Regions from separate parts of the Homo sapiens genome. Here region 2 is linked to region 1. The links come from fine-mapping of genetic effects on gene expression. A gene starts in region 1. The other region holds a variant in brackets. All regions are shown on one strand. Distances are between the middles of the regions. Region 1 holds the start of RANBP9 (RAN binding protein 9). Region 2 has its middle 51 kb from the start of RANBP9.

The links. PIP is the estimated chance that this variant, and not a neighbour inherited with it, causes the effect.
Region 2: its variant is fine-mapped to the expression of RANBP9 in aorta (GTEx, PIP above 0.99).

Annotation. Positions count from the first base shown.
Region 1 is chr6:13,706,741-13,715,075 of GRCh38, forward strand. RANBP9 (RAN binding protein 9) reads right to left here and starts at 5,095. Exons shown (of 14, transcript NM_005493.3): 1 at 4,195-5,095. The coding sequence starts at 4,765. LOC124901264 (a long non-coding RNA gene) reads right to left here and starts at 6,014. Exons shown (of 2, transcript XR_007059462.1): 1 at 5,943-6,014; 2 at 5,612-5,801. RefSeq lists silencers at 4,040-4,159, 4,420-4,469, 4,550-4,669, 4,830-5,599.
Region 2 is chr6:13,758,982-13,767,316 of GRCh38, forward strand. No RefSeq gene overlaps it. Among named protein-coding and RNA genes, the nearest start is that of RANBP9, 51 kb to the left of the region's middle. RefSeq lists a silencer at 6,207-6,306. The variant C/G (reference allele first, on the strand shown) is at 3,870.

The DNA of each region.
Region 1 (8,335 bases):
CCTGTAATCCCGGCATTTTGGGAGGCCGAGGCGGGCAGATCATCTGAGGTCAGGAGTTCAAGACCAGCCTGGCCAACATGGTGAAACCCCGTCTCTACTAGAAATACAAGAATTAGCCGGACGTGGTGCTAAGCGCCTGTAATCCCAGCTACTCAGCTACTCAGGAGGCTGAGGCAGAAGAACTGCATGAACCCAGGAGAGGCTGCAATGAGTAGAGATTGTACCACCGCACTCCAGCCTGGACGATAGAGCAAGACTCTGTCTCAAAAAAAAAAAAAAAAAATGCAATTCACTATTTATTTACTTATTTTTTTTTTAAGATAGGGTCTCACTCTGTCACCCAGGCCATCATAGCTCACTGAAGCCTCAACCTCCTGGGCTCAACCAATCCTCCTCCCTCAGCCTCCTAAGTGGCTGGGATTTCAAGTGTGTGCCACTTAGCCCGGTTAATTTTTAGGGGTAGAGACGGGGTCCCACTATGTTGCCCAGGCTGGTCTAGAACTCTTGGGCTCAAGCGATCCTTCTACTTTGGCCTCCCAAAGTGCTGGGATTACAGGCGTAAGCCACCACACCCACTGAAATTGACTATTTCATTGCTTCCTATAATTCCCAACTTTGACTTACCTTGGATTTCTTCTAAACTGTTCTAAATTAGTAAAATCAAGGTGTCTGGACTTTTCTGAAGCACTGTGTTCCAGTTACCTTTTTCCCCCAGAGTAAGTATTTTCAATCTCAACTATTCTTTAAAAGTTCTAAATGTGATCACAGGATTTTATCTACTTGAGATAATTAAGTCTCATATGAACTTAAAGAGGCAATACTATGGGATTGTGAAAAGAACACTAAATCTGGAGTTAGTGAAAATTTTCAATCCTGATTTACTCATGACTGGGAAGATCTAACCTCCAGGTTCTACCACTCTCTAAAATTTAAAATGAAAATTCCAGGATCTTGTCCAGATCCACTAGTGTGTGTATATATAAAGCACTCTATAAAATATCCAAATAGTGGTAATAACTAGAAAAATATAAAAATGCAATCTGTTGTTGAAACATTTAAACTAAGTCCATTGTCATATTTATTAAAATTATTTTCCCGTTATCATTATAACTAAGTCTAAACTTGTCACATTTGTACTTATTCAATACTGACAACAATTTCAAAAATAAGAGGGGCTATCCCTGGGTTTTTCAATAGTTGTTGTGTGACTGCTAAGCAAAAGGCCTTTAAAAAAATTTCACATATACTATACATACCCTGTTGTTCCTCTGCAATCCAATCAACCTTATCTGCATGTCTAGTATTATCTAACATTAATCTCTTCAAATCATTTCAGGAACAATACTGCTTCCAAAAGCAGTAATTTCAATTTAGAAGAACATCTTAAAAACAGAATACAGGCTGGACACAGTGGCTCAGGCTTGTAATTCCAGTACTTTGGGATGCCAAGGTGGGAGGATCACTGGAGCCCAAACATTCAACACTAGCCTAGGCAACACAGTAAGACCCCATCTCCACAAAAAAAAAAATTACAACTTAGCCCAGCATAGTGACAGGAGCCTGTGGTCCCAGCTACTTGGGAGATGGAGGCAGGGGGATCCCTTGAGCCTAGGAGGTCTAGACTGCAGTGAGCCATGATCGCACCACTGCACTCCATCAAGGCAACAAAGTTGAAATCCTATCACACACACATACACAAAAACACCAGAACAACAACAAAAAACCAGAATACCTTTGGAGCAAAAGAAAGCAAAATACTTCTATTTCAAAGATAAGGAAAATTCTCGTCACTCTGGAAAATAATTAAAATCATTCTTTTGAAATTCTGTAATACGTGAATATATGAATAGTAGTTTTTACTGTTAAAAGTGTCTCATGATACTTAGGTAAAACCAATGCAGCACAATGATAGGTTAAATAAAAATTCACTCTTCTTATTCTGTGATTTTAAAGTATTATCTACTCTCTATGATACTTCTCCTTTGCTACTGCTACTGCTACTGGGACACAGTTGCCCACCACAATCGGCGTGGTCCTCTCACAAAACACGCAGAAAATCAACAGTAACAACGGAAAACTCACACACACACACACACACACACACACAGTCTACAGTAACAAGACAAGAGGAAGAGGCAGTAGAAAGGGAAAAAGACTTTCTGACAAGGGGTAAGAGAGAGACAAAGGAAAGATAGAAGAGAGGAAAAATAAAAGGATAACAACAAAATCTGTTCTTCCAGAAATAATGATTTATGTTTATAAAACAGTTATGTTCCCAGAAAGTGAACCTTAGTATTACACAACAGAAAGTAATAAAGAGGCCAAGAATAAAAACAACTGAGACAGCAGTGTCAGAAATATTCCAAACTCCAACTAATTTCATATAAACGTGTATTTTTCTCTGACCTAATCATCAATTTTATGTAAAAGACTAAAACTAATCAAGACACCTTACAGTACTAAATAAACAGTAATCACGAATCTTAGACATCACGGAAATTCAGAGCTGGAAATTTCCTTACCAATCGTCCAGCTCAACTTACACACCACTCAGAGGAAGAAACTGAGGCTCAGTCTTGTAAAATATCTACAACCACAAACAACTGCAGAACTCAGGAAATCTAGAATTCTTTGTTCATCTACACTGGCTCTGACTTTATGAGCAAATTATTTACTGTCAACCATAAATTTAAAATTATAAAATTCTGTCACATCTAACAATAGCTTTCTGGCAGCCAGATCAGAAGTAAACACCTCATAACATAGCACCGTTCACACAAATTAAAACATAAAAGTAGAAATACTTCACAAGGAAATTAACAAAAGGTCCTAACTTGAGAAAAAACAAAGATTTGATATTGTGAATGAAACGTTCAGACGTTTAGATTAAGGAGGATAACACTTGGAAGTACTTCTTTGGATGTATGGCGAGAATAAAAAGAATGTTCAACAAGGCCTATTTTTGTGCGTGATTCTTTGCAGCCAAATCATTTGGTAGATTTCTATTGCCATTCGCCTTTCTGATTAAATAGTAACTTACTTATCAAGCTTCTTCTCAAATTTCAGTCCCGTATAAGTTAAGAATTTAACCACAAGGTTGTTTATCTCCTCTACATACATGTCACTAGGATCTGAGTAGACCCCTTTACAGCCAATCAAAGTGAGGCTGCCGTGAATGTAAAAGCTTCTGCTTTAGGTTTGGGGCCTAAAACCCTGGATTTGTTTCCAGACAAGACTGATACGTTAGGTTGATTTTTTTTTCTTCCACACAAGTAAACTTGATACATGCTATTAAATTGGGCTACATTTCAATAGTTCCCATAGCAATTCATAATTTTATATACAACTGATTTGCTTCCAGCTTTGTTTTAACCTAGGAGAGGTAGGTGAGGGAGGAAAGGGGCAAGCACAAGCCTAAGGTTGTTGTTTTTAACTGCAAGTGCAAAACATAAGCCAATTTTCTTCAAAATACTAAGCTGCATTTTGTTCCATCTTCGTTTTCAACAAGACTTCATGTGATATCAACACCTAAGGACCTGTATAGGGCACTTCCAATCGGGAGGGGTAGGTTTCTGCTCCCCTAAGAAAAAGGGTGTTCCTGGGGTTCCCTTCTCTTACCCTCCCGGTTGCTTTTACTAAAATATATTGATGGCAAACTTGGGCCCCTTGTCCTTTTGTCCCCCTAGACAATCTCTGGCCTAATTTTGATTACTCCTCCCCCTGTGTATCCCTGCTCTCTCTTAATTAGAAATCATACCTCAGAATCGTGCCTCTCTTCCCCCCTTGTAAGAGGAGAACGCCTGACCCACCACCTGGAGAACAATGTAACCCAACTCCGAGTCCATGGATTCCTCTACCCAAGCCCCAAGATTTATCTCCCAGGGAAATCAGAAAGCCAGTTCTGTCCTGTCATCCCGGATTCCCTCAAGGTGTCCTGCTCCTGGTCTAGGATTACCAGCTCCTTTCTACCCTGGGGCATTCTACTCACCTTCCTTTTCCAAGAATCTCGCCCCTCACCCTCGGACCCTTCACCGCGACCCCCGCGCCCACCCGGAGCAGCACAACAGGCGGCGAGTGGCCTCCGAGGGCAGAGCCCGCGAGGGCGGGGGTCGGGGGCGGGTCGAGAGCGGCGCAGCGGCGGCCGGCCACGTCGGGTCAGTGCCCCACTCCCACCGCAGGACACACGCCCAGTACCTTTGTAGTGCACCCGCAGGTTGTTCTGAGAGAGGCCGATGTAGCTGAACTTGTCCTTCGGGCTCCAGGACCGAGGCAGCGGCGTCTCTTGTTCGTCCACGGCCGGGTAGAGACGCTTCAGCCGCCGCTGCAACTCCTTCTCCTGCTCGTTCAGGGCCGAGTCCCCGTGAGGGAAGGGGGCCGCGGCGCTGCTGCCCGCCACCAGAGCTGGGGTCGGGGCTCCTCCAGCCGGGCCGGGGCCCGCTGCAAGGCCCGGGGGAGCGGGCGGCCCGCTGGCGGGGGCAGCCGCTGAGGCAGGGGGAGGCGGGGGCGGCGGCGGGGGCGGCGGGGCCGCGGTGGCCGGGGGCGGCGGCGGCGGAGGGTGGAGGAGCAGGGCGGCCGCCGCGGCCCCTAAGCCTTCGCCGCCCGCACCGCCGCCGGGCGAGCCGGCCGGAGAAGAGCCGGCGCTGACGGCCGGGGGCGCCGGCAGGACGACTCCGGAGACTGGGGCCAAGGCCGCCGGCGGTGGCGGCGACAGCTGCTGCTGCTGTTGCTGCTGCTGCGGCGGCGGCGGCGGCGGCTGCCCGGACATCCCGGCCGCGACTCAGCCTGCGGCCACCTCCACCTCTTCTCTCCTTCCTCCTCTGCTTCCCGGGGGCGCTGTCGCTGCGGCCGCCGGCACCAGGCGCCCAGTCCGCCCGCCCCGGAAGCAGGCGGCGGGCCGCGCGCCCAGGGAGACCGCGGCGGTTGAGGAGCTCGGAGACGCGGGAGTAGGCGGCGGGCCCGGGAGGCCGGGAGAGAACGTTGGCCGGAGCGCGGGCGCGCGGCCCGGGGACGAGGCGCCGAGGGCGGGGGCGACGCGGGAGCGCGGGAGGGGAAGGCGCGCTGGCGGCCGCCGCGGCCGCTGCTCTCGCGGCTGTTTCCCGGCGGGCGGGCCGGGCCGGCGCGAGACGCTGCGCGCGGGCGGCGCTAGGCGAGGGGGCGGGACGGAGGCGCGAGAGAGGCGCGAGCGGTGCGAGGGGGCGGGCCGCGGGGCTCCCGGCTGTGCGCCGCGAGGCGTCCTCCCGGGCCCGCCAGTCGCTCGTGGGCAGGATCGCTGGGCTCCCGGCGCCGCAGGTCCCTTCGGAGGTGTCCGCCTCCTCTCCCTTGGCGGCCGCCGTCGCCCCCCTCGCCGGCGAATCCCCTCCCACTTGACTTCTTTTTGTTGTCGTCGCCCCACCTCCCCACCGTAGGGCTCCTCGGAGCCGAGGCGCCGCTTCTCGTCCAGGCGAGAGTAATCGAGCCCCGCTGGGGCCGCCGCGAGCCCAGGCCCCGGGGCGCTCTAGGACCCGTCGGCCCGGGGCGTGCGGAGCGGCTCAGGCTCCCCGCGCAGTGCTGCTAGCTCTCGCCTCAGTCCCGTTCCCGTTTGCCGCCTCCCTCCAAAGAGGAACGCATTGCCTTTGGTACTTCAGTGTTTAATTCCGTAGCATTGACCATATGGGCAGTAGAAACCACTTCTGAAGGCAGTCTCCCACTTAGAATAGTGACTGTTTCATTAATTAATTTTACGAGGACTCACAGTGAACTTAACAGTGGTAGAAGATGTCATTAATAAAGACCGGCATATCTTCAAAAAGCAGGAGCAGGCACTGTATGAATACAAGATTATAGTGTGTGTTTAGGAAGGGCTTCTAGAGACGTCAGAACATTTTATAGACTCGTTAATTTTCATAACAGGGTTCTTAGGTAACAGAAAATTATGCCCATTTTTAAAACAAGGAAATATTTACCGAGATCAGCAGAGTCAAAAATAGGACTTCCTACTTTGCAATTCCCAATAGAATGCTTCGTCGACTAATTTGGCACAACTTGCCAAGTGTTGCTCTCTGACCCATCATAACATTACTACTTTGTTTTCACCACTTCCCTTTGTTTAGCTTATCCCTCCCTAGCTGGCAAAATCAGGCTTTGCATATGTAAATTGTGTGATGTAAATTCTGATATTTTGTTTGCTTCCAAAGATATGATGGTAATCATTTGGTCAAATAAGAAATGTTTTGCCGAAGAGAAAATTATTTCGTTTTGAAGAAGGTAGGCCAAAGGTGATTTAATTTAAGGCCAAGATTATCTGGCCAGAACAAATAACAGAGTCATTCGGCCTAATTTCTCCCTCAGTTACCCAGACAACTAGATGTTCTGTTGTACTTTTATTATTATTATTATTATTGTTTTGTCGCCCAGGCTGGAGTGCAGTTGTGTGGTCTCAGCTCACTACAACTTCCGCCTCCCGGGTTCAAGCGATTCTCCTGCCTCAGCCTCCCAAGTAGCTGGGACTACAGGCATGTGCTCACACCCAGCTAATTTTTGTACTTGTAGTGGAGACGGGGTTTCACCATGTTGGCCAGGCTGGTCTCGAACTCCCGACCTCAAGTGATCTACCCGCCTCAGCCTCCCAAAGTGCTGGGATTACAGGCGTGAGCCACCATGCCTGGCCTCTGTTGTAGTTTGATAGAAATATCCATTAATTTTAACCTGTTGTTTGATGACTTTTTTTAAACCACTGCACTTTGAATCACATGATGTCACTGTATTTACAGTGTTCTAACACTTTCATTTATATTACAGTAACAATGAGTTCAATGTAAGCCAAGCTCTATTTAAATGTACGATAGCCATGTTAGAATAAATGGGCTCCAGACGTCATTAAACTTTCTTGAAACACTTTTGAAGATGTACTTTTTTTCTGTCAGCACACTTAGGAACTATCTAGAACTTTCCGTATCTTAGGAACAGCTGAAGGAATAGAATTGTCTAACATTTTGTTGGAAGCATTTTATAAGGGGGACTGGTGGTTCTCCATCAAGAAATTAATGATTTCAGTTGTGGGGGAGGATGCTGTGAAATGAGTACTTTCTCATATAGAAGGAGATAGAGAACATTGATAACGTCCTTTTGGAAAGCTACATACTTGGTTATATTTATAAGGAGACATAAAGGAGTTCATACCTTTTGACTTATCTATCAAAAAGCCAAACAACACAATCTAAATATGAAAATACTTTAGGCTGAAAAATGTTCCACAAGAAGTATTAATGGTAGATTAAATATAGAAGCAAATCAAATGCCCAACCGGAAGAGACTAGAAGAAATTCTAGTCACATGTGAAATTCTAATCACATACCCCACTCAGTGGAGTTATGCTACAGGAGCACATATAGCACATTCGTGCCATTTTTTTTTAAGGTATCCCTTCTGGGCAGTGGAAGTGCCAAAAGAGGTCAACCAATTAGAAAAAGGCACCCCTTCCTCTTGACTTAGTGGATCCTGGGCCCACCTTCAGACCCACTCTCTCCAGGCTTCTTGCACAGGCACAGCCTGAAACAAATATTTTATGGCCTCTTAAAAATATGTTATTGAAGACATAGAAAAATGATTATGATATGCTAAATGAAAAGAGGCAATACGATAATTATAGCACTGCCAAAATCATTACCAAAAAGACATGAAGGAAAAATTGTAAAATGTTTCCATAATGGACAATTATAATGCATTATTAAAAGTAATGTACTTTTATTATGAAAATAATAGAATTGTACATAGATATGTAAATAGTAAAAATCCATTAGCCATGAACATATCCACACCCTTCTTGAACCTATGTTTTCAGTCTTTACCATGTATTGCTCTAATATTACCCAGTATCTGTATCTGCTGGGTTTCTCAGTATCGAACAATAGGAACCAATTCTGGCTCTCTTAAGCAAAAAAGGAACTTACTGGAAAGATATTAGATGGTTCTCAGAATTGACCAGAAGGCTGGACAAGCAGGCCTGAAAACTGACAATGGCCAAAGGAGGAGAGGCTGCATAAATAGACTGGCCTGGACCCCAGCACTGATCACAGAAATCACTGCCAGATGTCACCTTCAACACCTGGACTCTTATCTCTCTGACCTCCAGCCTTTACACCACTCACTCAAGTTTCAAAGTCACCAAGCCTAGATTGTGTGCCCATGCCAGAATACACCAGCAAGCAGAGATTCCCAGGTTATCCAGTGACTGGGTTACAGAGATGCTACGTTATTGATAACTTCAGCTCAGGGTGGGCCTTGAGTGGTTACAGCCACCAGAACTGGTCCCTTCCAACAGTGAGCAGTCTTGTGCATTCAGAGTACCATACACATC
Region 2 (8,335 bases), 52 kb after region 1:
CCCGTCTGCGGTCTATTCCACACAGCTGCCAGCGTGATCAGGTTAACCCAGAAGCCAGACTTTAGCATTCCTCTGTCATACCCTTCGATGGCTCCCCACCTCATGAGGAAGAGAAGGCCATGTCTTTACCATGGCCCACAGTGGCTCCCCCAGTCTGGCTCCTGGACACCTCCCTGAGCTCATCTTCTGTCCCTGCCTCCTGGCTCAAGCTCCAATCCCACCAGCAGGTGCTGCCTAGAGCGTCCTTCAGGAGCTGAGGCGTGCTCCTGGCTGCCACCCCTCGGATGCTGAGGTGGCCTTGGCTGGAGAGCGCTGTCCCCCTCAACACCCTATCTCACTCCCTTCTCAACGTAGCCAGTATCCAGTGGCTGAATGGTTTGGAGGTGTAAAGGCCTGTCCCCTCTCCCCAGCTCAGAGCAGCTCTGAAGGGCCATCCTATCTTCAACATCCCCATGGGGTTGTCTGGGGCTTTAGTTGAGACTGCATCACAGCTCATCCCCCTCTGCCCAGTCTTGCTTCCTGCCCCTCTTTCCCTTCCATGGTTTGATCCCAAGAGCACTTCCTAGTAAGCATCATATGTGTGCCAACCATCATCTCAGACACTGCTTTCCCTGACCTGTGAACCTGATCTCTTTGCTATACCAAAACACCCCAAGTACCCTTGATCTCAAAGCTTCTGCGGTAAGTGTTCCTTCCGCCCGCAAAGCTCTTCTCCCAGGTATTCAGGAAGTTTACCCTCTCCCTTCCTTCAAGTCTCTGCTCAAATGTCCCATGGCCTGTGGCCTTCCCTCACTACCTTATGTAAAATAGCAAACACCACCACCGTCACCAGCACGACGAACTCCATTATGCAGCTTTTTTCCCTATAGTATTTAACCTAATTAGATATATATTTCCTTGTTTATTCATCTTCTCTCACTATACTCCAGTTTCACGAAGGCAGATACTTGATCTACTTTGTTCATGGCTACTTCCATAATAACTAGAATAGTGCCTGCCACATAGTAGAGGCTTAGTACCGAGTCAGGCTGGTGCTGGTCTTGCTGTGACCTGATTCCAGTAATTGGCTCACCACCATAGCCCCTGTGATGAAAGTTTCGCCTTGAAGCTTTTCATCTTGACCCCTTTGATACCTTTGATTCTGTGTCAATGCCATCATGGCTTCCTTTATATCCTCCACAACTAAAGGCCCACCTGTGTTTTCCTCAGTCTTTCTAAAGTCCTACCCTGTGGCTTAGTCCCTCCATACCTGCCCTTAAGCTGGAGGAACCCCACCTCTCAGGCTCCAGGTGCACTTGTGTGGTGGATTACCGAAACTCTCCCACTCCAAGTCCCCATTCTCATCAACGTCCCTCCAGGGTCTGGCCAGGCTCCCTAAAAGCCCTGTCCAAACTATGAGCCACACCTTGACCTTCAGCATCAAAGAGGGCTTTACTGCAGGGGAGGAAGCTCCCATAAGAGCCAGAACGACCTGGGTGTGAGTCCCAGCTCTGGCATGTACCAGTGGGGCAGCCTTGGCAGGTCACTCACTTCCCTGAGCAATGGCTTACTCCCTGGTAAAGTTAAGTCAATGATGTCAGCCTCGCAGAGTGGCTGTGCAACAAGACATGAACATGTATGAAAACAGTCAGTAAATTTCTCCCGACTGAACTGAAATCCTCTGAAGCACCTGCCCTGTTGTGTTAAATGGAAAAGTGTGGTGTCCTTAGGAAGAAACTCTGACACTAGGTAGCTCTATGTGCAAAAGAATTTGCTGTGGGAAACCTTTCAGTACAACATGAAGTTCCATGATAATTCCAAACATATGTGAACGATATATAAGCTGTGTAGCAAAATCATATTGTCAGCCAAGTATACTAGGTCTAGGCATGATCTCAAGGATGGGAAAAGTTTGGCTTCACCTCTGAAAGGTAACCCTCAACCAAGAGGTAGCACAAAAGCATAATCGGTGGATGCGTTTCCCTCCCCCATCCATGCCTTGCCCAGATTTAATGGAAACATTTATACTAAACCTTGCCAAATTCACAGAAGTTTTTCCAGTTCCCATTACTTTGCTATTCAAAAGGAAGGGAGTAATCGCTTCAGAGGTAGGGTGTGGTACAGTACACTTAACAGAGTGCTGAAAGCAAGTTCAACACAGATGACCAATGTTGCCAGATTGCACAATTCTCGAGTTATTTTCGTGATGGGCAATGTTTTTCCTTTTTATTCCGTTTTCCTCCCTCTGGAGTTGGCTAATGATTTCCAGTGAATAGAACTCTGTCCAGTACAATCCAGTTAGCCCACAATGAACAGACTGTCAATGAGAGATGCTGCATTGACAGCCTTTATTTTAGTGGGCTCCCCGTATAGTAAAGATGGAAAAGGAACTGCTGTTGGGGGCATTCATTTGTAATTTGTGCTCTTGGTCTGGAAGTGGGCCATTAGCTCAGCAAAGATAATACAGAAACATACAATAAGGTCACCACTCTTTCTGAAGCCTGATCCATCATCTCTTGGAGAATCAATACCTGTATAGACACGTTATGAATGTGTTTAGTCTTTTCCTACGTGACCAGGTAGGAAGCTTCCTGGTCCAACCTGGGTGGGTGCTTCATGTTGGCTTGGCAGGTAGTGTCAGGCATCTGGAGATACAATACACATGTTTAGCTCCCTGCAATCAGCAGGCTGGTACATTCACTACCAGCTGCATTTTCTCTGTGATACTGCCGGAAAGAATGTGCTTAAAGTCACTATTGATTACTCTTTAATCCACACTATGTTAGGAGCAAAATTGAATCCGACAAGACATGGTATCTCTTTTCCACATACTTTGTGCATTCCAATAAAGAGGGCTGTCCTTGAGAGTATGAAGTGTGTATCCAAGAAGCCAGGCAGATTCCTTCGTATTCAGCCCACGGATTGTTCAGAGATTCCCAATTTCCTCCTGGGGAGTTGGGTGCAGGAGTCAAGAGAGATATTTGAGTCAGGGAATATTTCCCAAGAGGAGCCTTAGTATTTAAACATCCATTTTCTTTCTTTCTTTCTCTTTCTTTCTTTCTTTCTTTCTTTCTTTCTTTCTTTCCTTTCTTTCTTTCTTTCTTTCTTTCTTTCTTTCTTTCTTTCTCTTTCTCTCTTTCTTTCTTTTTTTTTTTTTTTGAGACAGAGTTTCACTCTTGTTCCCAGGCTGTAGTGCAATGGGCGTGATCTCAGCTCACTGCAACCTCCACCTCCTGGGTTCAAGCGATTCTCCTGTCTCAGCCTCCTGAGTAGCTGGGATTACAGGCGCCCGACAACAGGCCCGGCTAATTTTTGTATTTTTAATAGAGACGGGGTTTCACCATGGTGGTCAGGCTGGTCTTGAACTCCTGACCCCAGGTGATCCGCCTGCCTCAGCCCCCCAAAGTGCTGGGATTACAGGCGTGAGCCACCACGCCTGGCCCAGTTTTCATTTTTAAAAAATCTATTACATGCTCATGATAAAAAAAATTAAGCAGTGCACAGTGAAGAGTATACCCCCCTCACAGCATTCCCCCCTGCAGTTCCCATCCCCCCAGGCAACTACTGTTATGAATTTTTTTGTGTATCCTTCCAGAAAGAGTCTATGCATATAAGAGCAGCTTTGATTTTTGAGATGCATTTTTGTATGTTCAGTTCAAGTGGTTCACAAGATGCCTTTTCCAAATAACTCCATGGCAACGCAACTCTGGAACTCACACGCACATGGATGTATACATGGACACACACAGTCGTTCTTTTGAGCATAAAATGGAGGGGAAATGATGCAACAGAGAGTGAATAGAAGGCATATTCCAGTAAACCACAGTGGTTAGTGGCTTCTCAGATGGTTCCAGACAGCTTTTTATACAGAAATAGCTCAGTGAGAACAC[C/G]CCAGCCTACTCAGACTGCAGAACAAATCCCAGGAACTTGCTTTTGTGCAATCTCCCCCTTGAAGCTCAAGTCTAAACACATCAGAGCTTGGCAGGGCTGCATGGGTACATTAGCGAACAGACAGAACACCCTGGCTCCTCAGGCGCTCCTTGTTTTTTTCCCTCTGGACCAGCAGATTTTTCTTACAGCTTACACCTGCTCCTCCCCGACCCCCAACAACATGCAGAAAAGGAAAGCCCCTCAAGTTTTCCTTGATCAAGAGGTTAAATAAAAAAACAACTCTCTTTCACACTCTAAGGGAAAGGAAAATAAAAACCACCAGTAGCTAAGACACACACACACACACACACACACACACAAACACACACACACATTTGGCAGAAATAAATTAAGAAAAATCATTCTATGTATGAGACCATTCTGAAACTAAGTGATGCATGATATTATGCAAATTTGCAAGGTGTATTTGTCCTCAGAATAGAGATGGCTGAATGGGAGTGATAGTGTCTTGATAAATTGTTGTTCTAGAAATTTTCCAGAACTGAAATGTGCAACAGGACATTTGAGAACTATCTTTTATCTAAATACTGATGTATTAATAATATAGCAGTATTAAAAGCACTGTCATAATTATTAGTAAAATTAGCTCATCTATAAGAGTCTGAATAAAAATGTCTCATCAAAAGCCAAATTCTAATGTAGGAGCCACATGGAAACCAATAGAAAAGAAACATTTCCACTGCATAGGCTGATATACTTGAAAATACAGGTCTTACTCCTGGTCAAAGAAATAGTTGTTTATACAGTTTTGAGGATACTGACAAGATCACTCTTAAGAAAATACTGCCTCACCTTCTGGCTAGTGCCTGAAAATCCTTTTCTAGTTGAGAAAACCTTAAATTCCTCAATAACAGATAAAGTATAATAGGCAAATTCCCCTGAAAAGAACAGCAATAATAATAATAATGCTAATTTCCTGAGCACTTACTTGTGGTAAATACGTTACTTTCGTTCTTACTCAGGACTCCACATGAATGATCTCCTTTAATCCCTGCAGAAGCTAATTTCCAAGATGGCTTCCTATAGCCCTTGCCTCTGCATATTCATGCCCTTCTGTGGGGGCTTTCCCTTCAATCTGAGTGGGCCCTGTGACTCTTTCGTAATCAACAGAATGAGGCAGAAGTGGTACCGTGTGGCCTTTGCAAGGCTAAATCAGGCCTTACAGCTTCTGCCTTGGTCCCTTAGGATGCTCATTCTGAGAAAGTCAACTGCTAAATACAAAATCCAATTATCCTGAAACCACCATGTTGTAAGGAAGCTCAAGCTAGCCATGTGGAGTAGCTGAGTGGAGAAAGAGATGCCTGGCCAGCCCTCAGCTATTCTAGCCAGATGTGTGAATGTAGAAGCCATCTTGGACATCCAGCTCCTTGTAGCTTGTGGATGGTTTGGGGCCCACCCAACTTCTGAGAATAGCTACATGTGAGACCCCAAGTGAAAACAGCCCAACTGGGCCCGGCCAACACACAGAATCATCAGAAATAGTAAAAAATTGCTATTTTAAGTCACTAAGTTTGGGGGTATTTTGTTACACAGCAATATGCAACTGAAACAATCCCGTATTTATGCTACAAGGTTTTTCGTTGTTGTTTTGTTTTGTTTTTCCAAGACATAGCCTTGCTCTGTCACCCAGGCTGAAGTGCAGTGGCACGATCTCAGCTCACTGCAACCTCTGCCTCCTGGGTTCAAGCAATTCTCCTGCCTCAGTACAGGTGTGTGCCACCATGCCCAGCTAATTTTTGTATTTTTAGTAGAGACAGGGTTTCACCATGTTGGCAAGGCTGGTCTCGAATTTCTGACCTTGTGATCCGCCTGCCTCGGCCTCCCAAAGTGCTGGGATTACAGGCGTGAGCCACCGCACCCGGCCTGTTTTTTTTCTTTTCTTTGTTTTTTTTTTGAGATGGAGTCTTGCTCTGTTGCCCAGGCTAGAGTGCAGTGGCGCAATCTCAGCTCACTGCAACCTCCGCCTCCCGAGTTCAAGTGATTCTCCTGCCTCAGCCTCCTGAGTAGCTGGGATTACAGGTGTGTGCCACCACACCCGGCTAAATTTTTCTGTATTTTTAGTAGAGCCAGGGTTTCACCATGTTGGCCAGGCTGGTCTTGAACCCCTGACCTCAAGTGATCCGCCTGCCTCGGCCTCCCAATGTGCTGGGATTACAGGCGTGAGCCACTGTGCCCAGCCTGCTACAAGGTTTTGAAGCTCACAATTAACTCTCCAACATCAATTTTACTGCTTCCTCGCTGTGCCATTTGAGGAACTGACCCCAGTCTACAGGTTCCCCTGATTAGTTTATGCTAGTAGCTCTCAAAGTGTGGTAGCATCATTGTCACCTGAGAACTTGTTAGGCAAATTCTCGGGCCCTTCTCTGGACCTACTGAATTCAAAACTCGGGCCAGCTGGGCGTGGTGACTCATGCCTGTAATCCCAGGACTTTGGGAGGCTGAGGCAGGCGGATCACAAGTGCAGGAGATCGAGACCATCCTGGCTAACATGGTGAAACCCCATCTCTACTAAAAAAAATAAAAATAAAATAAAAATAAAATTAAAAAAGCCAGGCATGGTGGCAGGCGCCTGTAATCCCAGCTACTCTGGAGGCTGAGGCAGGAGAATGGCTTGAACCTGGGAGGCGGAGGTTACAGTGAGCCAAGATCATGCCACTGCACTCCAGCCTGGGCGACAGAGCAAGACTCCGCCTCAAAAAAAAAAAAAAAAACAAAAAAAACAAAAAAAACAACTCCAGCTGAGGCCATCATCTGTGGGGTCTGATACATCCTTCAGGTTATTCTGATGCGTGCTCATGTTTGGGAACCACAGGTGTCTGTACCAGTCACGGTAATCCTATCCCTCCTTGCTAGTGACAACGAAAATGAGTGATGGAGGAATAAGTCTCGAATCATTGCGGTTTAGCAAGGCAGCTTAAAGGGAGTGCCCAGGAAAAATGCGAGTCACAGAAGCATCTGTGGCTGTTTTTTCCAAAGAGGGTCTCAGGAGGTTTAGCATTTATACATTTTCCTGAAGAAAGTGGGGCAGGGCATGAGACAAATGATTACATACTTGTGAGACTTTAGTTGGTGCTCATTTTTCCTAAGATAAGGTGAACATTTGAAGAAAAAGGGAATAGAGGAAGAAGATGTCTGAGGAGGGGTGAAGGTGTCTTTGTTCTGTACCTGGAAAGATAAACTAGTAGTCTTTTGAAAGGGCTGGTTTCTGTTTAGCCCTGAGGGAAGAAAACCTAATAGCTGTTATAGAGGTAGGGGGTATAATGAGGCGTGTCCAATCTCCCATCCCCTCATGGCCGTGAATTCAGCTTGCAAGATTCCCTTGGCCAAGAAGGGGTCTGTTCAGTCAGTTAGGGGCTTGGAATTTCATTTTTATTTCTTACTCGTGATTGACTTAGGAATCTAGGCTCAAGCCAATCAGCACATAGCATTCCCTTGATGTCAGTTATTAGTTTGTGGTTAAGGGAGTGGCCCTGTGTCTTTGTGGCAGCCATTCTGACTATGAAGGGAGCCAGGCTTAAAAGGCAGCTGACACTGAGGATGGAAAGCAGAGATGCAGAAAGAACCTAGGTCCTTGACACCAGGGTTCAATCAGCCTGTCCCATCTGTGAACTTCCAGTTACATAGGCCAATACATTTCCTTTTTGGTTAAACTCATTTGAGTTGGCTTTTCCGTTAGTTGCCGCTGAAAGCACGCTACCAGATACAGTAAGCATTATAATCCCTACTTTTACACAGGAGAGATTAGTTCAGACAACTAGGAAGCAGATGCGCTAGGATTTTTTTTTTTTTTTTAAGACAGAGTCTTGCGCTGTCACCCAGGCTGCAGTGCAGTGGCACGATCTCAGCTCACTGCAACCTCGGCCTCCTGGGTTCAAGCGATTCTTCTGCTTCAGACACCTAAGTAGCTGGGACTACAGGTGCACACCACCGCACCTGGCTAATTTTATGTATTTTTAGTAGAGACGGGGTTTCACCATGTTGGCCAGGCTGGTCTGGAACTCCTGACCTCAAGTGATCCTCCCACCTCAGCCTCCCAAAGTGCTGGAATTAGAGGCATGAGCCACTGTAGCCGGCCCATGCTAGGATTTGAATCCAGGTCTCTGTTGTTAAATCCCACTTTTATAATGAAGCCATCAATGGTGAGATTTGTCCCTTTCTGGAAAGTAGAGGGTTTTGGTGAGTTAGGGTACTAAGACTACAGGCGGGCAGTGGGCATCAGACAAAAGAAGGGATACCATGGAATGAGGAAAAGGTCGGGAGAGAGGAGGGAGGATGCATACAAGACAAATCACTCCTGCTTAAGTCTTTTCTGGGCCGGCCCCAGGCTCTGGTATTTCTTTATGTCCTTAAATCAAATGACGTCCTTTCTCTTCTCCTCTTCCCCAAAATGCAAGACCAACACTGG